Regions from separate parts of the Homo sapiens genome. Here all the other regions are linked to region 3. The links come from fine-mapping of genetic effects on gene expression. A gene starts in region 3. Each other region holds a variant in brackets. All regions are shown on one strand. Distances are between the middles of the regions. Region 1 has its middle 38 kb from the start of MIR623. Region 2 overlaps UBAC2 (UBA domain containing 2). Region 3 holds the start of GPR183 (G protein-coupled receptor 183).

The links. PIP is the estimated chance that this variant, and not a neighbour inherited with it, causes the effect.
Region 1: its variant is the best candidate, but not a certain one, in a credible set for the expression of GPR183 in whole blood (INTERVAL, PIP 0.61).
Region 2: its variant is the best candidate, but not a certain one, in a credible set for the expression of GPR183 in whole blood (INTERVAL, PIP 0.51).

What each region holds. Positions count from the first base shown.
Region 1 is chr13:99,389,919-99,397,985 of GRCh38, forward strand. No RefSeq gene overlaps it. Among named protein-coding and RNA genes, the nearest start is that of MIR623, 38 kb to the left of the region's middle. The variant T/C (reference allele first, on the strand shown) is at 4,573.
Region 2 is chr13:99,372,149-99,380,215 of GRCh38, forward strand. All of the region lies in intron 8 of UBAC2 (UBA domain containing 2), which reads left to right. It also overlaps the pseudogene HMGB3P4. Among named protein-coding and RNA genes, the nearest start is that of MIR623, 20 kb to the left of the region's middle. RefSeq lists an enhancer at 3,660-3,729. The variant CTT/C (reference allele first, on the strand shown) is at 3,653.
Region 3 is chr13:99,303,010-99,311,076 of GRCh38, forward strand. It overlaps GPR183 (G protein-coupled receptor 183), which reads right to left and starts at 4,390. Exons shown (of 2, transcript NM_004951.5): 1 at 4,331-4,390. All of the region lies in intron 4 of UBAC2 (UBA domain containing 2), which reads left to right. RefSeq lists enhancers at 489-1,037, 1,038-1,584.

The DNA.
Region 1 (8,067 bases), 87 kb after region 3:
GAGAGTGTTTATCTGGTGTAGCCCACCTCTTCAGGTGAGGAGACAGATCAGAGAAGGTGCCAGGGTAACTTGGCCGGGATCCCGAGGGCCATGATGGACTTGAGGCAAAGTCAGCTCCCTGGGCCAGGCCTGTCCTCAGCCCTCCCCTGGCTGCTTCGGGCCTCCCCTCAACCTGGGCAGTGGGAGGAGAGCAAGAAGGTCCCCAGGGTTGGCCCTCAAATTCCTCTTGGGACTGTGCTGCTCCCTCATCCCACCCACGCCATGCCCAGCAGCACCCATGGCTCCTCTCAGGCCAGCCCTCCTTGCTGTCTGCGCAAGAAGGGAACCCAGAGGGATGTGGCAGCGAAACTCAGGCCCGATTCTCCCCTGGGGCCAGAGTTTTCTTCCAAACCCACTACATCTGCCTGAAGCCATGTCCACCTGGCTGTCACCACAGACAGAATGGGAGACTCGGGCCTTGTAATCAAAGGTGCTCTCCTGCCACTGAGGAAGGATGGTGGCCCCGTGACATGCTAAAGTGGGCTGGTGGTGACACAGTGTCTCCTGAGATTCAACTCACCTTGAAGACAATTCGCCTTCGCAAATGTGGCCAGGTGGAGCCTCAGCAGAAAGCTGGGTTTGCTGTTGGTTTCTCTCCCCAGATGATGTACAGCCATGGAGCCTCTGCACACCACTTTGCATCCACCAAAGACAGACCCAGGCCCAGTGAAGCATGGAGACTGCGGATGTCAGGGAAGGCCTGGGAGAGCTTCCCTCGCTTCCATCCAGTGTGTTCACCGGCCCACTGTAAAGGGAGGAGTTGCCAGAGGCTCTGGGAACACCAAAGGCGAGGGCCCTGGGAGGTGGTGGCAACGGGCCCCAGGGACTGGCTTCTTGCTCCTTGGGGGCCCAGGGAAGCCACTTCTTCCCCTTCCGATCAGCCCTGCCGCATCAGAGACGGCTCTGCTCCCGGGTGGGAGAAGCTCCCGCCATCCTCTGCCTTCCCCTGCCCCTAGACAATCATATAGGAGCCCACGTAATGGACTTTTCTGTTCAACAAGGCTTTCGGTGCTTCACGGGGCCATAGCCAGTTTTGCTCTTTTGCTATCTTGGCAGTTCTGTGTACGGGGTGCCTATCATACAATGCTAATAGGAGGTTAAACAGAAGCACCATATTATATCCGGAAGCTGATCAGCCTAGAACTATCGATGCAGATTTTGTAAAACCCACATTCATGTAACATATGGCTGACCCCAGTTTTTCATATGAACAAAGCTGTCGGGACCACAGAGATCTTTGGCAAAATAGGCAGTCTCTTTGGAGGGCAGGTTGCCTCCTCTCAGCAGGCAGGTCCTACTGTACTTAAATGTGCACAAAGATGAATGTGATACTAACACTAAGGCCTGTTTAAAGGAGGGGTGCATTTATTTTGCTTAAACATAAAAAGTCTAGCAAATACTTCAAAAAAACCAACCCCCTTAACAGAGTGAGAGCAGCCAAGGCAAACCCTTCTCCAGCCCTGGGGAGACGTGATGAGGCTCCTACTTGGAGATCACCCAAATGCAAACCCAACCGTGGCTGGTTATTTAATTTTTTTTTAATTAAAAAAGAATAAAGCGGCCAAGTGTGGTGGCTCACGCCTGTAATCCCAGCACTTTGGGAGGCCGAGGTGGGTAGATCACTGGAGGTCAGAAGTTCGAGACCAGCCTGACTAACATGGTGAAACTGCATCTCTACTAAAAATACAAAAATTAGCCAGGTGTGGTTGTGGCACCTGTAATCCCAACTACTTGAGAGGCTGAGGCAGGAGAATTGCTTGAACCCAGGAGGCAGATGTTGCAGATAGCGCCACTGCACTCCAGCCTGGGCGACAGAGCGAGACTCTGTCTCAAAAAAAAGAATAAAGCCAAGCACTCACTCCTAGCCTGTCTTATTCCTGATTATGTGAATGGCCATTTCAAATTACGAAATTTCTAAATTCAGAGCTCAGAACTACTTCAAAATGATAAAAGCAAATCAGCATACAGTTGCCTTGGGGGCAGGGGAAGACAGTGGGTAGGGCTGGGGCAGGGCACCCCAGGGCTTCAGAAGCTCCAGTAGTTTGAATTTCTGAAACTGGGTGGAGGTACAGGGTGTCTGTTTTACTGGTTTTTAAATGTCCTACATACCTCCTTTATGTACTCTTCTGTATTATGACGTATTCAATCAAAAGTTGAAATTCTCCAAAGATATATTCCCTCCCCTCTTTTGATTATTTGCCAACTTCTTCCAGAGATTCCTATACACTTGTGCACCCCTTCTCCCCGGGAGAGCTCCAGAACCCTGGAGCTGGGTGGACGGGGTGTAGACCAGGCAGCGTGGTGCAAGGGATTCCAGCCTGGAGCTTGAGCACCGAGAGTCGGGGAGACTCCCGTCTGGGGGAGCCTCTGACACCACTCCTCTCTTCTCATGTGAAGGCTCTGTTTCCAGCCCCTGCTGCGGCCTGGGAGAGGGCACAGCTTTTCCTCGGTGTTTACCCACGGATTCTCACACTTTCCAGATGATTCCTGTTTGCTCCCAAACCTTATCCCTCCTGTTCAAGGTTTCTACCTCGAGGGGAGAAGTAAGGACACTGCGGCTGACCGTCACCCAATAGGCCACAGAGATGAATGAAGAGAAAGGGGCAGCCTTCACTTTCCAGACCTCTTATAATCCAGCCATCTAATGCACTGGGACTCTAGGCAGAGCCCCTCCTGTCCCCCGAGGCTGTGTGGTTTGGATGTCAGGGCCTTCCTGTAAGATGGGAAGACGCCCTGCTCAGCTCCACCCGCCTGGAGAGCTCCCATGGGTGCGAGGGAGATGGGGAGTGCGGCTCTGTTTCCTAAACTGTTGAATGCTGAGTTCGTGGCATATTCTTAGTACCACTGGAAATACCAACAAATAATAAGCTAGGGTCTGATTTTGAAAGTGAATAATAGAGATTTTGAAATACCTTTAATTGGCTGGCCTTGGGAAATGTTCCTGCCAAGCAGGAAAAGATTCAGGAGGACAGAGGCGCCGCCCTCCCCAGGCACTTGCCAGCGGTGCAATTGTCTCTGCGCCCACCACCTCCTCTCCCCTGAAAAAAGGCTTGTGTTTAAAAGGGGTGCTTCAGGAGCCCTCTGTCCATCATCTCCTCCTTCCTCCTCTGAATCTCCCCCTTTGCCCTTATTACTGACACTTCCCTAGCAATTTCTCTGGTTACAAAAAAAAAAAAAAAAGAAAAGAAAAAGGACAATGATATGCTTTGGCTTTGTCCCCACCTAAATCTCATCTTGAAAATTATAATCCCCGGGCAGGGTGTGGTGGCTCACACCTGTAATCCCAGCACTTTGGGAGGCCAAGCTGCGCAGATCAGCTGAGGTCAGGAGTTCGAGACCAGCCTGACCAACATAGAGAAACCCCATCTCTACTAAAACTACAAAATTAGCCAGGCATGGTGGTGCATGCCTATAATCCCAGCTACTTGGGAGGCTGAGGCAAGAGAATCACTTGAACCCGGGAGGCGGAGGTTGTGGTGAGCCGAGATCACGCCATTGCACTCCAGCCTGGGCAAGAAGAGCAAAACTCCATCTCAAAAAAAAAAAAAGAAAGAAAGAAAATTGTAATCCCCATAATCCCCATGTGTCTAGGGAGAGACCTGGTGGGAGGTGACCGGATCATGGGGGCGGTTCCCCCATGCTGTTCTCATGATAGTGAGTTCTCACAAGAGCTAATGGTTTTATAAGGGGCTCTTCCCCCTTCGCTCCTCACTCCTCTCTCCTGCTGCCTTGTGAAGAAGGTGCCTGCTTCCCCTTCACTTTCTGTCATGATTGTAAGTTTCCTGAGGCCTCCCAGCCATGCAGAACTGTGAGTCAATTACACCTCTTTCCTTTATTAATTACCCAGTCTAGGGTATTTCTTTAACGACAAATTCCTTGAAACAAGTTGTGACATGCACTGTCCCCATTCTCTCAGCTCCCGAACACCTGGCCTCCATCCTCAATGGCCAGTTTTTGGCTGGATGCTATGGCCCGCTCTCGGGCTGCTGGTAACCCCCTCGGCTCCATGGCTGGAGCAGCGGCCTCCTGTCCTGGCTCCCACACCACCGCCTCTCTGTCTCTCCCGCAGCTTCCTCAGCCTCTTCCCTCCCCATGAATGTTGGTGCTCCTGGGTCCTTTCTAGCCCTCCGTGTTAGCCAGGGCTTTTTACTCTCTGCATTCCAATGCTTTCACATCTTGGGGCCTTGCTGACCCTGGAGAGACAAACCCTGTACCCCGGGGCCAGCCAATCCCTAGAGACAGAAAAAGGCCTGAAGGGAGCACACTGTTCAGAGGCAAGGCAGCCAACCCAATGCCTGCACCCCCGACCTCCACCACCTGTCTGGGGCTCTCACACTCCAGGCCACTATGCCCCTGCCCTTGTCAAGCAGTACCAGGTACCAGGCCCCTAAGGACAGCCCCTCTGCCCCAGAGCCTGCATGCCCCCCTCCCGTTGATGCTTCTCGTGGAAACCACATTCAAGGTCTTGCCCACGCTCTCCTGACCCTCCCTCTGCCTGCTGACCAGCCCTGGTTCTCCCCTGGCTGGCCTGGG[T/C]GGCAGAGTGTGCCCCTCTCCTTGGGAGCTGTGAGTAACGAACTGTCTTTTCAATGGTGCTCGGCCGCTGATCTGTTGGCCTCATCATACCTGAGAAACAATAAAGCCTACAGTTTAGAGAAGCCCCTCAACTCTCCCTGGGACTGTCGTCCACCTCACCCCTCCCAAACCCGTACCCTCACCCTAAATCGCTCTTCCAGACTGCACACCTCGTATGTCCCACTTTATACTGGACACCTCCATGTGCCTGTCCTAGGGCTCCTAAGCCCACGTCTTCCACCCTCAAACTTCATCTGACCCCACGCTCCCTATCTCAGGAAGTGACAGCACCCTCAATCCAGTCCCCCAACCCCAAACTCGGGAGCTCTCCCAGAGTTTCCCTAACCCCTTCTCCGACGTCAGTCTCCACCCAGCACCTAACACACTTCACATGTTACGTTGTAATTGTCTGATTCTGTATGTCCCCTGCTGGCCTACCTGGGCCATGAGGCTGGAGACCACGTCTACCCACTGTGTCCCCAACACCCAGAACCACACGTGGTGAATGTGGGAATGAATGTGGAAGATGAGTATTGGCCTAGAGACAAAATCATAAATTACTAGAGATGAAGAAGGTCCCCGCCCTGCCCTTGGTGCACGCATCCTCTCCCATGTCTCAGAGAGCAGTCCTTTATACGCGGGGATTGAGCTGAGTCAGCCTGGGACTGAAGTTCTGGCAATGTTCTACCTTGGTCAATTTATAGCATTTTACACCTTATTGCAACCTACCCAAGAGGCTTATATTAGGTGTTACTGCACACACACACACACACACACACACACACACGGGCTCCTCACCCCCTGAGACCAGCTCCCCCGCTGCCTGTCCTGCTAATCACAGAGCTCAGCAGACCATGTGTCAAGACTCCTTAGGATCCACAGATCCAAGCCTCAGAAGGTGAAGTTGGCCTTTGGCATTAGAAAATGTAACTTCCCAGATTTCTACAATTATAGTGGAACAGGGCGCCCATACCATGAGGCACTCGCGTTGCCTGAGGTGTGGTCTGACCCATGTGCTATAGGGTTGCTGTGCCCTCAGGTGGCACGGCCTGCCCCAAGCCTGGCTGCCCACAACCATCACAGGCCAGGGGAACTTCTTAGTCTCTGTGCCATCCCGTATGCTGTCACTTGGCGAAGTGAGAACCGCAGTGAAAGCTGGACAGTGGTTACCTGCGGTGTGCAGCAGTGCCCAGGAAGTGGGACTCTCGGTGGAAATGTGCTTTTTGGAGAAAGCCAAAAGCCCATCGGAATATGTGAGCATCTACAAATATGATGTACGAAACTTTCTGTTCTTCCTCCTTAAAATGTCAAGTGATTACAATTCTTAGGTGTCATTACACCATCCTCCAGCCAGTGGTGAAATCCTTGGACATTCTGGTTGGGTGGTCACTGTCCGTCCCCAGGGAACAGGGTTCAAGGCCTCATTACTGTAGAGCAATGTAGAGCCCTGGCTGACAGGGCTTCTCCTGGCCTGTGCCCTGCCTCTGTCCTGATCCTGTGGGCTGAGGAAACCCTTAGAAGTGGTCCCTCTCATGCTTCCATTTTGACACGAGATTATTTTGATAGGGTCTGAAAAACAAAGCATACAAGTTAAACTTTTTTTTTTTAAAGCAACTAATGTTTAAAAGAGACCCCTCTCATTCCTTCTCCAAGCCTCACCTTTGCAGTCGGGCTCTGAGGCAGTGTGTGGGGGCTTGAAGTGGGAGATTAGATGGGACTCAGAGAAAGGGAGAGTGTCTGGAAAGAGGGGTGTTCAGAAATGGGTGGGTGTTGTGGGCTGAATCGAGTCCCCCCAAAAGATATGATGAAGTCCTAACCCCTGGCATCTGTATGTTCTTAAATAGGGTCTTTGTAGATGTAATCAAGCCAAGATGAGGTCATTAAGGTGGGCCTAACCCAACGTGACTGGTGTCCTTATACGAGGAGAGAAACACCAGGTGAAGGCAGAGACAGAGGGGGAGAAGGCCACAGGAAGATGACGGCAGAGGCTGGAGCGATGGATCTGCCAGGTTGGAAACGTCAAAGAGCTCCAGCAAGAACCAGCAGCCTGGGGAGGAATGGTAAGTTCTCCCTAACAGCCCCCAGAAGGAACCAGCCCCACCAGGGCCGTATCTCAGACTTCCAGCCTCCAGAACTGTGGGACAAGAAGTTTCCATTGTGTTTCAGCCTCACAGTTCACAGCACTTTGTTACAGCAGCTCGAACCAACTACCACAGTGGGCCGGAGTCAGGTATTGGCAAAGGTCTTCAAAAAGGGGCCCTGGACCTGGCCTATCAGACTCACTCACATTGTCCCCAAACCCACTTCCCCACCAATCATTCCTATTTTTATTCACATTCCCATAGACATTTGACCTTGAAGTCACCTGTGATGGTTCATTTTGTGTGTCACCTTGGCTAGGCTATGGTGCCCAGCTGTTTGGTCAAACACTGCTGTAAATGTCGTGGGGAAGGTATTATTTAGATGAGGTTAACATTTAAATCAGTAGACTTTGGGTAGAGCTGATTACCCTCCATAAGAGGGGGAAGGTGGGCCTCACCCCACCAGCTGAAGGCATTAAGAGCAAAGACTGAGTTTTCTGGAGAAGAAGCAATTCTACCTCAATCCCACAATATAGAAGTTCTGCTCGAGTCTCCGGCTTGCCTGGCCTCCCTTGTGGATTTCAGATTTGCCAGGTACCACTCCTATGGTGCAAACACACACACACATATGTGTGCGTGTGCCTGTGTGTGTCTGTGTGTGCGTTGTGTGTGTGTCACATTGCTTCTGTTTCTCTGGAGACCTCTCATATATAATCACTCACTTTATTTTTCCAAAAAAAAAACCACAGGCGGGCCTCCTCTCTTGATTTCGCCTTTGAAATGTCTCTTAAATCTCTTCTTTTCTTTAGTGCTCTGGTTCTCAGAATAGGCCACACATCAGAATCACTGGAGACCTTTGGAAAATCCTAACACCAGCCACACCCACAGCAATTACATCACATCTCTGGGGATGGGACCCAAGTGGGCATCAGGATTTTTTAAATGTCCCCCGACGATTCTCATGTGCAGCCAAAGTTGAGGACCAACGGTTTGATAAGGAAAGAAAGCCAGGAGGGAAACAGGTCCCGCCACCTCTGAATGTGGCGTCTTCTGAGCCGTCACTGCTCAAACACAACCCCTGGACCAGCAGCATCAGTGTCCCCTGAGAGCTTAGACATGCAGACTCTCAGGCCCCAGCCCAGACTGACTGGAGAAGAAGCTGCATCTTAACAAGACCCCAGGTGATGCCTGTGTCCACATTAAAGCATGAAAGCTTGAAGAGCTTTGTCTAGGACGAACCTAAAGCAATCAGTGTCCCAGGGCAGGCTGCCATAGATGAGTTCTGTGGAAACCCAGGGGTGCAGGGGGGCTGACCATGGGTCACGCTGATCTTGTCATGAGCTTGGGGTCTGCTCTCACAGCCCTTTTGTGACCA
Region 2 (8,067 bases), 69 kb after region 3:
GCCTGCTAGCTAGACAGTCAGGATGGCAACAGCGATCCCCGGAAACCACAAGGCGAGATGTCTGCTCATGCCTTCCCTGTGCAGACGTGCGGGGAGGAAGATCAGAAGAAAACCCCACAAGTTCCTATCAATTTCACAGAACTTTCCAAGTGCTCTTAGAGTTGAAAGATAATGTCTGGGGAAAGAGAAGTCTAAATCTGATGAAAGGACAAAGGTGGATAAAGTAGGCTGTGGGGGGAAAATGAAGGATGATGGACCAGCTAAGGGAGGCAAGGAGAAGGCCCCTAATGCCCCCCAAAGACCACTGCCTGTTCTGTTCAGGATCCCCAGCATCAAATCCATAGACCCTGGGATTGCTTTTGGAGATGGGTAGACAAGCTTGGTGAGCTGTGGAATCAGTGACCGTGAGAAGCAGCCTTAGGACACCAAGGTGGGGAAGCTGCTGGAGAAAGACAGGTGGCGTCACCGGCTCTGAGTCTAAAGGGAAAATGGGTGGCAAGAAGGTCCTGCCAGGGTTGCCCAGAGAAAGGTAGACAAGAAAGAGGAGGAGGAGGAAGAAGAAGATAAATAGAAACTGTTTGTCAACAACAACAGCAAAAATGCCAAGCCAAAGACCACTTGATAAAACTCCTTCGAGTAATCAAATACGCTCAATGTCTGCTATCTTAGAAATAAGTGTATCCAGGCCGGGCGCGGTGGCCCACACCTGTGATCCCAGCACTTTGGGAGGCTGAGGCGGACGGATCACGAGGTCAGGAGATCGAGACCATCCCGGCTAGCATGGTGAAACCCTGTCCCTACTAAAAAATAAAAAAATAAAAATTAGCCGGGCATGGTGACGGGCGCCTGTAGTCCCACCTACTTGGGAGGCTGAGGACAGGAGAATGGTGTGAACCCGAGAGGCAGAGCTTGCAGTGAGCTGAGATCACGCCACTGCACTCCAGCCTGGGTGACAGAGCAAGACTCTGTCTCAAAATAATAATAATAAGTATATCCATTATTCCATCTCTCTCTTTTTTATTGTTTTTTTTTTTTTTTTTAAACAGGTATCTTTATACTACTATGACCCATACTCAAAATTAACAAATGATTAAATTTTTCTCATATTTGCTTCTGATTTTTTTAAAACCAAAGGGGGAAAAACTCATCAAGTGTATCTCTTCTGACCCTCCCAAAGCTTAGAAAATGACTGTTAGGTAAAATCAGACAAGAAAGTTAAATAAGACTAGACCAAAGCTGGGATTTAACAAAAGGAAGATGAGCAAATTTCAGCTTCCTCTCTTCGATTCATGTCTTTCTTTCCTTTAGCTGACAGTGACCAGCTGTCTGCTCTGCACCGGGGCTAAGCGCTGTGCTGAATTCTGAAAACACTAAGATGGATAAGGCGGAATGTCCTGCCCTGAGGAGCTGTGAGCCCAGGGCAGGGAAACAGGTGGACAAAGAGCTTGTGGAAGTGTTCGGGTGCTGCTGAGGCCAAGAAAGGCCGTCAGGGCAGTGGTGTTGCAGAGGAGGGGCCTGAAGACAAGTACATGGGAGGTGGGGAGCCACGGATGGGTGGGCTGGAGTAGAGGGGACTGGAGGGCCGGGGCACTTCTTGGGATTCTAGAAGCTGGACAGAAAGGAGGCCAGACAGGCTCGCCAAGGGTCTGATGTGTGGCATGTGGTTATACTCTAGACACCAAGGAACCATGCGGGATCTTACACAAGAAACACCATCATTGGGTTTCCCAAGAGGATGGACTGGACACAGAGGAGGGGGCAGGTTATAATCTTATAATTTTCTCTATCCAGGCCCAGGAAACATGGTGCAACTGCCCAGACAAGAGATGTTACCATTTGGTGCATTAATATTAATAATACATTTATAATGCATGTCAAACGACAGAATTACAGCAAATTTAGTGACAGATCTATTTGGCTTTTATTTGCAACTTATGAATTAGTGCAGCCTCCATTCTACAAAACAGAATGTGAGCTCCCGCCAGGCAGTACTGGAACAGTGCATTTTGTAAGAAGGAAACAGAGCAATAGAAAAATAACTGATAGGTTAACATTGAGTTACTTCAGGTTGCTTTTTTTTTAAGGGTTAAAGCAGAGGGGAGTTCCTTATTATGCTGACTTGTGTAGTCTGGGATCTCCTATTTTTAGAAAAAGCAGGTCTTCTTGTTTTGGGATCTGTCTGCTTCCTTAAAGTTTCAATTTGATTGTGTGGCATTTAGCATGAGTGACTCCATTTAGTTTGGTCTTCTGGTTTGTTGGAGCCCAAAACAATGGCGTCCCATAATTTTGGTCAATTCACATGACACGTCGTGTGGATTCTGTTTATGTCTCTGAGATATCCATTAGCCCAAGTAGAGAGAATGGCTTTAAACCCACAAGGTGCTTTCACTCTTAGCTGATAAATAGCAAAATGTATTTAGTATTAGAGAATCTAAATCTTAATGAGGCTGTCTCCTCTCTTCTCATCTCAGGAATCCTTACCACTGTCTCCAGAAAACCCACCGAAACTCCTAAAATGCTCACCTTCTGAAAGCAGGGCTCTAATATTTATTGGTTTTGAGACACATCTCGTGCTTCTGCTCTGAGTAGCCAAGCATGGCAGCACATTGGGTATTGGGTTAGCCTCCCATGGCGTCTGGTCTCCCTGTGGACAGCGAGCTTCCTGAGGGCTGGGGCCATGTCTGCCTTGTTTGCTACCCTATGAAAAGCCTGATACACACAGGTGCCCCAGCATCGGTCGGAGAAGGGTTGAACACGAAGGTGTGGCCAGTAAACTTCCCTTTCAGAACTCTTGTTTTCACATAAAAAATGTGCTAGAGAGTGGTATTATGCCAGGTTTTTCCATTGCTTGCTCTAGTAGATTGGAAATACGTTTTCTAACAAGATCCCAAAGTTAGATGTGTTACAATGAAATACTAGATGGTACTCAAATAGTAACCAACTTTTGTGGGGTGTCTCATTCTGCTGGGTGCTCTGAGAGATGTACACAAAGGAGCTCAGCCAGCCTTAACTAAAGACCTGCTCCATACAAGACCCTGACGAGGCTCTAGACACAGTTGGTCTCAGAGCAGCCCAGAACGCTGGCAGGGTCTGTAATAACCAGAAACCTGAGTTCAACCAAGAGATGTGAAAGGAGGGGGGATCTGCAGTTCTCCCAAGGAAGAGAGTGGTCAGACAGGGAGAGGGGGGTGGGGGCTGCACTGCCTTGCAAGGGTCTCGGCCATGCGTCAGCATGGGGGTGGGCAGCTGGTGCCAACAGGTAACCGGTGCCAGTTGCTATGACAGCAGTGGGCGAGGCAGGCCCAGCACATCTGGGCTCCCCCAACAGGGTGTGCATGCTACCCTGCACCCAGTGTGAGCTCAGGATCGGGTGGGGGCCGTCTTCAGGTGGGCATCGCTTTCTGCAAGCGTCAGAATATGGGAAGTAAAAACCCAAAAAAAACATTTGTTTTTGACGCACTTAGCTAAAAGGGAAGTTAAAGAAAACCACACTCTAGTTTGAATAAACCAAAAGGAGTCTTTCACTGAGGGGAGTTGCTAGAAATCTCATTGGAATGAATGTCCCATTTTACTTATGTCAAAGAGGAGTTGAATTGCAAGTAAAATACCAAAGTGGGATTTCATTTATTTTCTTTTCTCTTTTCCTTTTTCC[CTT/C]TTTTTTTTTTTTTTTTTTGAGACATGGTCTTGCTCTGTATCCCAAGCTGGAGTGCAGTGGTGCTATCATGGCTCACCGCAACCTCGACCTCCTGGGTTCAAGCCATCCTCCCAACTCTGCCTCCTGAGTAACTGGGACTACAGGCACATGCCACCAAGCCCAGCTAATTTTTTTTTTTTTTTTTTTTGGTAGAGACAAGGGTTGCCCAGGCTGGCATTTTCTTAAATGAGAATTATCTTGAGGTAGTAGGCACACACATCCCAATCATAGATGTTTAAAAATAAAAAATAAGGAAAGAGAAACTGGTACAGATTTATTTCCATCTCTAGGGTGTTTTCCTCATTCAGTGGGTTCTCTGAAAAGCACATTATTAGGGAATGTATTCCATCTTGCTCTCCTTTGGAACATTGTCAGGTGACAGTGACAGTGCTCTTGTGGCAACGCCTATTTCTGTCATGCTCCCCTGCCTTGGTCAGCCAGCCATGTGGAAGTGTCACACCAGGGCTGGTGAAGGGCTGCTGACGCCTGTGGTTCAGAAGCTCGTGACGAAAGGCAACTGATGGAGTCACACCTTGCTCCACTGGGGCACCCTGGACACCTCCAAGAGGGTCTTCATCCCTGTGGGGGCTCTGGTGGGGCACCCTGGACACCTCCAGAGTGGGTCTTCATCCCCGTGAGGGCGGAGCTGGAGTTTGCCATTGCCACAGCACCAGCTGCACCTTGGTGTCCTCTGAGTAGCCTTATCTCTGCTCCTCACCTCTGGAAGTCAGGTTTCCTGTTACGGAAAGCAGGCTCTGGATGTTACATTTGGGGAATGTTAGTGTCTAGAAATAAGAAATAAGTAGATGTGGAAGACAGGAAAGCAAAGCATGCTGGAGGCGAACCCAACTAGAGCTGGCTTCTCAATGAAGTTAGAGGAAGGAATCATTTCGATTTGGGGGCTAGAAACCAAGCTGCACTCTAATCTGATATTTTGTGGTGAGGATTTTTAGGCAGAAACTTCTTGTGATGCCTGAGCAGGAGGAAGGTACTCGCTGTGCTCTGAGATGGAGAGGGAATGTTGAAAGAACACCTTTTTAGAAAATTTCTTTGAGACATTTTTAAAATTTTCCAGACCAATGAATGACTGCAAGCCCATGAAGCCAACACTGACGAAGTTGCAGTATGCAGCGCCGTGCCTCGCCTCGCCTCGCCTCACCATTGCCTCCACTCACGCCAGAACAAGTGTCTATCCTAGCACAGTCTTTTCCAGAGTCTCAGTGTCCTACCAGCATTCTCATTTTGTCCTCCACATGTTTATTGGTCACTTTTGATCTTCACATTCAGCCTTCTCTAACTGGTGCTGGGCACCGGGTGTGTCAGGCTCTGTGTTGGGGGGAAGCAAGCCAGGCCTGGTGCCAGCCCTCAAGGGAGCTCACCGTCTATGAGGGAGACCAGATCCATGCAAGGCCCTAACCCAGTACCCAACTCATGCAAGTACCTAGTGCCAGTCCTTAGAGCAGAGGAGACCTGTAAACATTCATTCCTGTACTTTAACAACTTGACATCAGGAGATTTTACATTGAAACTTTCTCTTCCTGTGGATGTTAGATCGGATCAGGTGCTCATGGTGAGTTCTGATGCTTCTCATCCCAGTAGCTGGACTACAGAGACAGGAAGCAGCCTGCAGAGAAAATGAAGTAGTCCAGGGTTTCAGTGTGAGTTAATGTGTGTTGTGGCTAAAATGTGGTGCTTTCGATAGGGAGAGAGATGGGCTGACCATCTATAATACCATTATTTATATAGTCATCAGAGTTGTGTATTTGCTAAACTTTATAAATACATAAAGTGTATTTTAGAACAACACAGTCTTTTTGTTAGAATGTTATGCTCACCATTTAAAAAGATTGTTCCTGTCTTTCTGACTTCTTTAGGGCCCACCACACACCTGGCCCCGCTGCCCTCCATAGGAGAATAGTGGTCCTGAGAGGTCATGTTTATTGAGCGCTGGTCATGTGCCCGTCACTGTTCTGGGCTTCTCACATGCATCCCTCTCATCTCCCAAACTGCGAGGAAACAGAGAGTCAGAGCCTGGTCCCCTGCATGTGGTCACACGGGGCCAACTCCAAAGCTCGGGTCTCCCTGCCACCCTGCGCTGGAGTCAGACCTAAGACAGCATGCAGCTTCCCCTGCATTTTTATTTCACGGAAGCATGAACCTGGTTTTCTGTCCCTACAAGTTGAGTATCCCTTATCCAAAATGCATGCTGCTCTAGTCCTTCAGTAAGCCCATCACATATTTTCTCTGTGTCGTCTGTAGACACTTTTTCTGCAGCGTTAGCATCATCTCCATCATCACTGTTGTCACAGTCACCTTGACTCAGAACCATCTCAGCTATTTCACCATGGGTCAGTTAATGAACAGCTGGAGCCCCCTTATCGATATTAAAAACTTCAATATCTGGCTGGGCTCAGTGGCTCATGCCTGTAATTCCAGCAAGTTGGGAGGCCGAGGTGGGCAGATCACTTGAGGTCAGGAGTTCGAGACCAGCCTGGCCAACATAGTGAAACCCCATCTCTACTAAAAACACAAAAATTAGCCAGGCATGGTGGCACATGCCTGTAGTCCCAGCTACTTGGGAGGCTGAGGCAGGAGAATGGCTTGAACCCAGGAGGTGGAGGTTGCAGTGAGCCGAGATCACATCACTGCACTCCAACCTGGGTGACTGAGCAAGACTCTGTCTCAAAAATAAAATAAAAAATAAAAACTTCAATATCCACTTCTTCTGGCTTACTGACAGACTCGAAGGTATATTTTTTACCTGTTAGGAGGTCAGGCATCATTTTATCCTCATTTGACATGTGGAATCCTTCAAAGTCACCACCTTGTTCGTCATCATCACTGAACATAGCACAGGCCAGAGGTTGTGTCAGGCTTGCATAGCTGTGTTCTCAGTCACTGTGTTCCATGCATTGGCAACAGCATGTGTGGCATCCTTCACGCTAAACGCCTGTTGAAAATCTTCCATACCCATTCATTTGTTGCTAGCATGTTGTTCAAGAAGGTACTTTTATATTTATCCTTCATTGATCTAAGAATACCTTGGCCACATGGCTGAATTAATGGAGTCACATTTGGGGAAAAGTACATGGCATAAACATGATTTTTGATGAGATGTCAGCTGGAGGATGAACAGAAAAGTTGTCAAGGTATAACAAAATATTTCAGTCATCATCCAGCCCAGCTTCCCTGCAGTGAGCACAAGCCACAGGTCCAAAATGTTTGTGAGACCAATCAGAAAAGATATCCCTAGTTAAACATGCCTTTTTGTTAGCATAATAATGGTCTGGTAAGAAATTCGCTGCTTGAAAACAGCAAGGACACAAACTTTTGCCTGTCATGCAAGTTTACGCTTATGCATGCCTGCTGCATTAGCACATCCCAGCAAAGTTGTTCTGCCCTTGATGTCCTCAGTTCCTGGAGGGGCTGTCTCATTAGCTGTAGTTGTGTCTTTCTGGAGCAATAAAACCAAAACAGTGATGTTCCATCAGCATTATAGACTTGTTCTGGCATCAGATTTTTGTCAGCAATGACCTTGGCAAACTCACCAATGAATTTCTTTGCTGCTTCATGATGCTTTGTCACCACATTAAAAAATTTGGTTTCATGTTTTTTCTTAAATTTCTGCAGCCAACATGTTGAATATTCATAGTTCCTTTTCATTTTCAGTTCCTCATCCTGATAGATCCTTGCTTGTTTCCTGACCCACATAGCATTAAGTGGCAGGTGTTCACTGCAACACCAAGGGATCCATCCTCGGTACATGATCAGGATCTTCATTTTTAGCTTTATGCAGTGTTTCTCTATTTTTCATTAATTTCTGTTTATCACTTTTAGCACAGAACTTCAACAGTTTATCCTTCTGTTTCTTCAGATCCTATATGGTGGTCACTCCAACACCATACTCTCCTGTAAGACGTTTCACACTTACACTGCTCTCCACTTTCTCCAACAGCTTGACTTTCTGTGCTATAGATAAACATAAATCTTTTTCTTATCACTGTTACCCAGAGGGTATCTGCACACCTTTTAGATATTTTAACAACATTTTTATAACACAGAGCAGAAAGTAAGCAAAAAAGCACAGTGAGTGACGCACGTGGGTTTTGGCCCCATGCAGGTCATTGTGGGGAACCTGCCCACTGGCATGTGCTTGCGTGGGGGAGTCGGGGCATGTGCAGAAAAGGCATGTCACAGCTGAAGGAGGGTGAGAGGGTCTCTTTTCCCTTGGAGACACTGAATAAACTACATGTTGTGGCCTGCATTTTGACTGCAGCCCATCACATGAGGTCAGGTGTGGAACTTGCCATTTGTACTGCCATGTTGGTACTCAAAAAGTTTCAAATTCTGGAGCATTTTCGATTTTGAATTTT
Region 3 (8,067 bases):
CCTGCCTCCTGGGGGCTTGCTTTCTGGCTTATGGAGTGTGACTAGCCGAGGGGCTTAGTAGAGGCAGCCTTATTGAGGAGCTCTGTGACCAGCCTGCCAACCCCATTGCATATCCTGGGTCAGACCAGCTCCCAATAGATCTGCGAAAGGCCATTTATAGGACCAAGTACAGAGAACTTCTTCAAGACAGAAAAAGACAGAAAAACATCTTCAAGACTGAAAAAGGGTTTAGCAGTCTACTGTTTCCTCTTTGTGCTTTATATGTGTCCTGAACCCAGTGGATGTGCAGCAAAGACCCACTTCGGCTTCATAGACGCGCTCCTTGGAAATGATGGAAAGGTGCTTGAGCACGGGAATTCTTTGGTTGAACACCCACTTGCACATTTGGGGTTTCACATATTCTAGTTATTTTCTTTCACCTTTCACTGGTAAAAGCCACCTATGTGGCTTTTGGTGGCTTTTATATTGAAAAGTATGGAAGTTATTGAAGATGAAGATGACATATGTTTAGAGAACTAAGAAACTAAGAATCCCACCATAATACTCATTTTAGTGTAAGAAAGATATTCTGTGTTTGTATCTGGCATGATTTGTAGGATGCAGCATGTGGGAAAACTGCATAATATAAAAAGGCTCTTTATAATGAAGCTCTGTGTCTATAATATTTCTCCTCTGAGTCCTGAATGTTTCTGGAAATAATATGTACCTTTTCTCTTTCAAGTTCAAGGAGTTTCAATTTTGTTTTTGTCTCTTATCAGATGGAAATTAGGGAGGAACATTAAATATCATTATTTTATGGATAAACTGAATTCCAGGTCAACTCGGTCATTCGCTCAGGGATCTTACTGTGGTACTCAAGGCAGGGGTCGTGAAGGCGCCCAGGACTCCGTGTTCTCCCTCACCTGCTGCCTCTGGTCAGCGAGCAGTCCCTGTGCCTCAGCCTTGTGCTCTGCTGCACATCCGTGTCTGTCTGTCTGCCTGTTGTGTGCCATTCCCGCCCTTCTGCCCGCAGCCACGGCAGCAGCTTCCCGCCAGGCTCTCAAACGGGGCCCATCCAACCCCAGGCAAACCACAAGCTCTGTGTCATGACACACAAGTTCCCTCATGATCTGAGCTCCATTCCTTCTTCAGGAGGGTTGCTGGTCAGCTTCCCCTGATCGTGGCCTGGCTCCAGGCATGCAAAATTACTTAGAACCTTTGGATATCCCACGTTCCCTCACAACTCTGTGCCCGGTAACATTCTTCCCTCTGTTTGATGTCCTCTGGCCCCTATCCTGTATCCTTAGCTCTTACTTTCCTTCAAGCCTTAGTTCTAAGTATCCCAGGAGCATTCCTGTTCTCCATCCTCTGAAAGGCAGTGTGGGTGTATTTGTGAGAGTGCTGTGCTCTGTCATAGTGTCTGCATCATTGATTTTCTTCCCTGTCTCCCATGAGCCTGTGAAGTACTGTGAGTGGGGACCCTATGGTGTTAATTTCTTGTATCTCTAGGTGATGTATGATCGATATTCAATAAATACCCATTAGTTAAAGAATAGCAACATTGCAGCTTTCTTAATCCTTAATGAAAGGTTCTTTATTACACCCCAGTAAGCCCTTGATGAATAATAATCAATTAAAATTACTAAGCAGAGACTGTGTTCCAGGCACTGCCCTGGGCACTCTATGTGTGTTTACTCATTGAATCCTCTCAGAACTTTCACAAGTCCATTGACAGAAGGTGAAACGGAGGCACCAGGGCACTTAAGTGACCAAAGACCTAGCTGTTAAATGTTAGGATTCAGACCCAGGCAGTTTGGCTTCAGAAGTCACATTCAGTACAATACATTTTATCTCCTATTTCCGACGTGATCTGCTATTATGGGTAGAAAACAAGTAAAATAGGAAGGCATCTCAAAACCTTAACGTACACTAACTCATACCTATCTGAACAAGAGAGACTAGGAGAACTGGGGGAAGGGAATGGGAGCAGGGAGGAAGAGATGTTGATTCAAATGAAGGAGTTTATTAGTTTATTTGTAGCATATTTTAAAGTAAGTAAAGGTTTTATAAATGGATTTAGAGTACTGTTTTAACAGTATTTTAATAATAAAACAATTTAGACTGAAATTTCGATTGAAAAAAGATGGTGAATATCTAGAATAGGCTTTTATGCTGTTAATTGATTTTTAAACTACTTTTTAGATATTTGCAGAGATTTAACAAAATATTTTTATTCTTCTCTTTGGGCTTCCAAAACACCACAGCCATCTGTGTTACTGTCACAGCTTTCAGAGGATTCTCACATGTGTTATCTCATTTTATACAATGCCCAGACTTCTTGAGAAGGTGATAAACCCCCCAGACTGGAGAACACCACGCGTCCTCTACACAGGCCACGTCCAGGGCTGCCTAACAACTCCAGCAGGTCTTAACCATAGCAGAGAGAAAAGTATCCCTGTAAACGGCTTTATTAGGTGCGAAGCTCTTTTAAATGTAAGCTTCTTGAGGATGATGACTTGATCTCATCCAACATTTTATCCTATAGAATGCTACAGAACCAACCTACAATAGATATCTAGTAAATATCTATAGAATAAATAAATGAATTAAAGTCATATAGAAACCTGAGTTAATATTTATTCCATTAACTGACTGGTCATGGTACTAATTAGCTCTAGGAAGCCAGATGAAAGTAATTTATGCAAGGGATCATTACCATTGTCACTAACGCGATACATAAACATGTGAGTGAACATTTTGTGGAGTAGCATATTCTTTGTGGTTTTATGTCCAAAAAGTGCAGTGAACCCGCAGAGAGAAAACATGCTAAAATATAAGAAGTGTGCAGTCCTACCAGTAAGCACAGTTAGATGTGTGATCATCCATAGACTCAGGGCCATTTATTTATTTATTTATTTATCTATCGAGACAGAGTCTCGCATGGTCGCCCAGGCTAGAGTGCAGTGGCGCAATCTCGGCTCACTGCAACCTCCGCCTCCCAGGTTCAAGGGATTCTCCTGCCTCACCCTCTTGAGTAGCTGGGATTATAGGTGAGTGCCACCGTGCCTGGCTAACTTTTATATTTTTAGTAGAGATGGGGTTTCACCATGTTGGCCAGGCTGGTCTCGAACTCCTGATCTCAGGTGATCCGCCTGCCTCGGCCTCCCAAAGTGCTGGGATTACAGGAGTGAGCCACCACACCCAGCCTGATTCAGGGTCTTTATGTAAAATATCCATAACATATCTGTTGGATTCACCCTCTGGTACGTCAGTGGCCAGAGAGATGGGAGAAGAATGATGGGAGACAGTTTTTTAGCACTTATAATGAGAGGCAATGTTGTAAGGACTTGGCAGTAGTAATACTCCCCATTTTACAGGTAAAGCAGCTGAAGCCAGATATTAGGTAACTTGTGTGTGGGGGGGCCACACAGCTTGTAAATTTCATTTGATCCTGATTTCAGAGCCCTTGCTCTTATTACACTATATTGTACTCAGAGTGACACCAAAAAAACAAAATACCACGCCCCCCTCCCCCAACACACACACAAACACACATATATAAAACCCTCACTGCCCTTTAAAGGAAGTCTCTTCACAGCTTCTATTTTGCCAAGTTTCTGTTACCACCATTCCCAACCTGGACATAAATGTTGCCAAAGCACTGCATAGAATTCATTGTGATTTTTTCCCCTCAGGCACATAGAAAAGATACGTTTAGTCTAAGTAAACACAAGTATAAACCACACAACAGACTTTTTTTTCACTTATCTAATTAGTAGTATTTAGCATTTAAAAAGCAAAGATTGGTACTCTTTGCTGGCGGGAGGGTAAATTGGTAAAATGTTTTTGTAGACCAAAAAGTACCGTTTTATATCTAAAGCTTTAGAAAATATACCCTTTGCCCTAGGAATTCTACCCCTGAGATTCTATCCTGAGAAATAATCTTATATTTCTAATAATTCCTATAGCATAGGAATATTCTATATTAAAATAACTTTGTTCCTTTTCCTTCATACTAAGTTATCCTGAAATATTGGCATTATTTGCATAGTTTTGCTTGATACTGTCTTTTGTCATTGTGAGTTTATACAGTAGTACATGAAGTGAGCCCTATTTTTTGACAAAGATATTTCTGGTGGACCCATCGCTTTCAGTCAACTTTATAAGAACTAACTAGACCTACCAGTCAGCAGAGAGAGTAAACTTACATTATTAATATAATTTTTGTTAGAAGTGATGGTAGCTTGTTCTTAAATAGATTGTTTTCCTTTTTACCTTTTACCTTAAAACTTAGGCTTTTAAAGTTTTTCTTTAAAAAGTTTGTTGAAAAAGCAAAAGATCTTGTACTTACATATCAGTGACTCGTTCGGGTCTCTGTGTAGTAGCTGTGAGTAGTTGTCCAAACTGAAGTAAGTTTTAACTGTGGCATGTTGTTTTAAGAGAGGCTGTGCAGACCTCCTTTTATGGTGGTGACTTTTTTTTTCTCTGTCACCCTGTGACTGAGCATGTAATGAGCAGTTAGCCTCGTGTACGTGTGTGCACTTTGTGTTTTTTTTTGTTTTAAATGGGAAGTGAAATTTTTTATAGTGATTAAAAAAAACTATCCAAAAGCCCCTTGGAATTTATGAATTGTTGATATCTGTGGAACTTTATAAATTTTTCTGTAAAGGTTTAAGTATCAAAAAATTCTTTGAAAGAGACTGAAGCAATAAACCTTAACCAAAAAAAAGACCAAGTTACTGATGATTTTATATTGATTTTGCATGTAAAAGTATGGGTTTTTAAATGTTTTAAGGAAAATAGTGTCAACTTTGACAGTGCTTTTTACCTGGAAACTTGGTATCAGGGAGTAGTTTACACATTCCACCTTATCCACAGCTTATGAGAAAGAAACAGGTTTCTGTGGCGTGGGGGTGAGTGACAGTCCAGGATGTGGAGTGGACTGGATTAGTCGCCGTTTTCAGTCGAGAGGCTGCCTGAGTCAGAGGCTGTGTGAGTACTTGAATAACAGGGAAACAGTTGAAGGGAGGCCCATTATAGATAAAATCCAGCCTCTTCAGCACAGGGTGAAAGAGACTCATGCCATTCACCTCATAGTTGTAGTTGACTCAGTTTAAACCAACTAACGTGTCTGTCAGAATGCAGTTTATTTGTAGGCTAAATTACCAGATATGTAGCACTCAGATCAGGAGAGGTGATGTTTACACTTAGTCAGGACTGATCTGGCCATTCCCAGCCACTTCTGGGTGCTGCTTTTTACGAAGACATAGATAACACCTGTGGCAGTGAGGGGCCTGGATAGCAGGTCTTAGGAGAACTGATTAAATAAGCTGGGGATGTGTATGCTTTGTAGGCATAGGGTCATTATCCTTATGCTTGTGGAAACTCTCATAGAAAAGTGTTTACATTGCTTGTGTCAGTCTTCCTAACTCCAGAGACTAGCGGGAGGGTCAGTAAGAAGTTACTGGACATAGCTTTTGGATCAAAAGATGAGAGTCATTCCCAAAAGTTGTGATTATTTTGAAAAATGGAATATGCTGTTTCTTATTTAGATGCTTGAGTAAACTTGATGATTTTGAGGGATGATGTAAACAGAATTGAATCATTTGGTAGGAATTTGTAACTCTGTGATCTCAGAAGCCTTTCTGCTCCAGGATTCTGTAAAAATAGTCGAGTAGCTTTTGCCTCCCACAGATGTCATTAGGTTCTTCTAACGTCTAAAGTGCTGTGAGTATGGAGGAACATTGTCAGACACAAGAAAGAGCATCAAGCAAGTCAGCTGAATTCTTTGGGCCGCCACCTCACTGTGTATAAAATAAAGGTATTGAACTAAATGATCTCCAAGGTAATTCCTAGTACAAAAATTCTATGAGGGGGTAATACAGAGATTTTATGACTTGGTGGATAAACATGACATCATATTCTAGAACTAGTTCATTTAAAACTTAGGCTGCAGAGTACTTGAAGAAGACACTGTTGATAAATTTTTCAGTTTGTTGAAAGACCATTCTGGTGGGGTTTTGCCTGTTAATTTTGAAATAGTTATATTAAGTAAAACATTTTTATATAGTGAAGGACTCAGCTAGTTCAAGTAATTCCTCTGACAAACTGGATCTGTCCTCCCAACCTTCTTTTTTTTTTTTGAGACAGAGTCTCGCTCTCACCAGGCTGGAGTGCAGGGGTGTGCTGTCGGCTCACTGCAACCTCCACCTCCCGGCTTCAAGCAATTCTCCTGCCTCAGCCTCCCGAGTAGCTGGGACTACAGGCATATGCCACCATGCCCAGCTAATTTTTGTATTTTTAGTAGAGACAAGGTTTCACCATGTTGGCCAGGATGGTCTCAATCTCTTGACCTCATGATCTGCCTGCATTGGCCTCCCAAAGTGCTGGGATTACAGGTGTGAGCCACCGTGCCCAGCCCCTTTTTTTTGATATCAGAGTAGTCAGGCAGATGAAGAAGAGGTGATGGGGTCATTATCCTGTAAGAGGCCGCTGAAGCTGTATATTAGATCATTTCATGAGCTCACAAACCTTGTTTTTATTGCTGTTGAAAGTTACCAGGGTTTCTTGAGTTGTGATTGTACTGTAAAAGTAGAGTTGGCCTTTACAGTTTTTTTGTTTGTTTGTTTGGAGACAGGGTCTCACTCTGTTGCCCAGGCTGGAGTGCAGTGGCACGATCTTGGCTCACTGCAACCTCTGCCTCCTGGGCTCAAGTGATCCTCCCACCTCAGCTTCCTAAGTAGCTGGGGCTACAGGCACATGCCACCACGCCCAGCTAATTTTTGTATTTTTTTGTGTGTGTGTGTGGAGACAAGGTCTCATTATGTTGCCCAGGCTGGTCTCAAACTCCTGACCTCAAGCCATCTGCCCACCTTGGCTTCCCAAAGTGCTGGGATTACAGGTATGAGCCACCACATCCAGTGACCTTTTCTATAGAAGAAGTGAAATGGACATTTGCAACCTTAACAAGGTGTCTCTGTTATTTTATGTTTTCTATCGAGTGCGATCATGAATATATAGCAGTAGATGCTCAGTAAATATTAGTGATTTTAAAGGATGAATTAGCAATGGCTCACGCCTGTAATCTCAGCAATTCAGAAGGCTGAGGCAGGAGGATTGCCTGATGCCAGGAGTCTGAGATCACTGTGGGGAACACAGCGAGACCCTGTTTCTAAAAAAAGTTTAAAAATTAGCCAGGTGTGGTGGCACACACCAGTAGTCCCTGTTACTCTGGAGGCTGAGGCGAGAAGATTGCTTGAGCCTAGGAATTAGAGGCTACAGTGAGCCGTGATTATGCCACTGCACTCTACTCCAGCCTGGGTGACTGACAGATACCGGTGTCTCAAGAAAAAAAGAAAGGATGGATGAAATGTTTATAACCTGCTTTCTCTTTTCTGTGCTACCAGCCTCATCTGCTTAAGCCAGAAAGGGCTTCCAGAAGGTAGTTCTTCACAGTATGAAAAAGGTCAAACTGAATTACTGTTGACAGTATAGAGAACAGATGTTGTCATAAAATAAGGAAAAGAAAAAGACTGGTCAGTGACTAATAACATTATGGTATTTTGTGAAGTCTGTGTGTGTAGAAATAGCAACGGAAAATTTCTGCAGAACAGCCCATATAATTTTGGTCTGAAATGTGTATGTGTGGCCTAGTATTTAGTCATCATTTAAAATTATACAGTGATTAATATTTTTAAAGGAGTTTTTAAACTTCTATTGGTATGTGAAATGTAAACTGTGGTCATTAAAATTTCTACCAGTATTTTTTTTAGTTTACGTTGAAATGTAACCTCAAAAAAGAACTCTGCTTTAGGTTATTTAGTTATAACATCACTATTTGTACTTTATTACTAAATGTAAACAGAAGAACTTCTATGAATTAAGCGCCTCCAAGGGCATGTTCTGTGGTAAGAGACCTCTGGTGCGATTGGCTCCCCAAATAGGGTTCTATAATCACCAAGAGAGCAGGCCATATTTTGAGCTACATATGAAACCATGTGTTTTAATCCCATTAAAAATGATAAAAAGGAAGGGGGCTTTTTAAAACAAAAGGCAAGTTCTGCTGTATGGTTTTACTGTTTTAAAGGA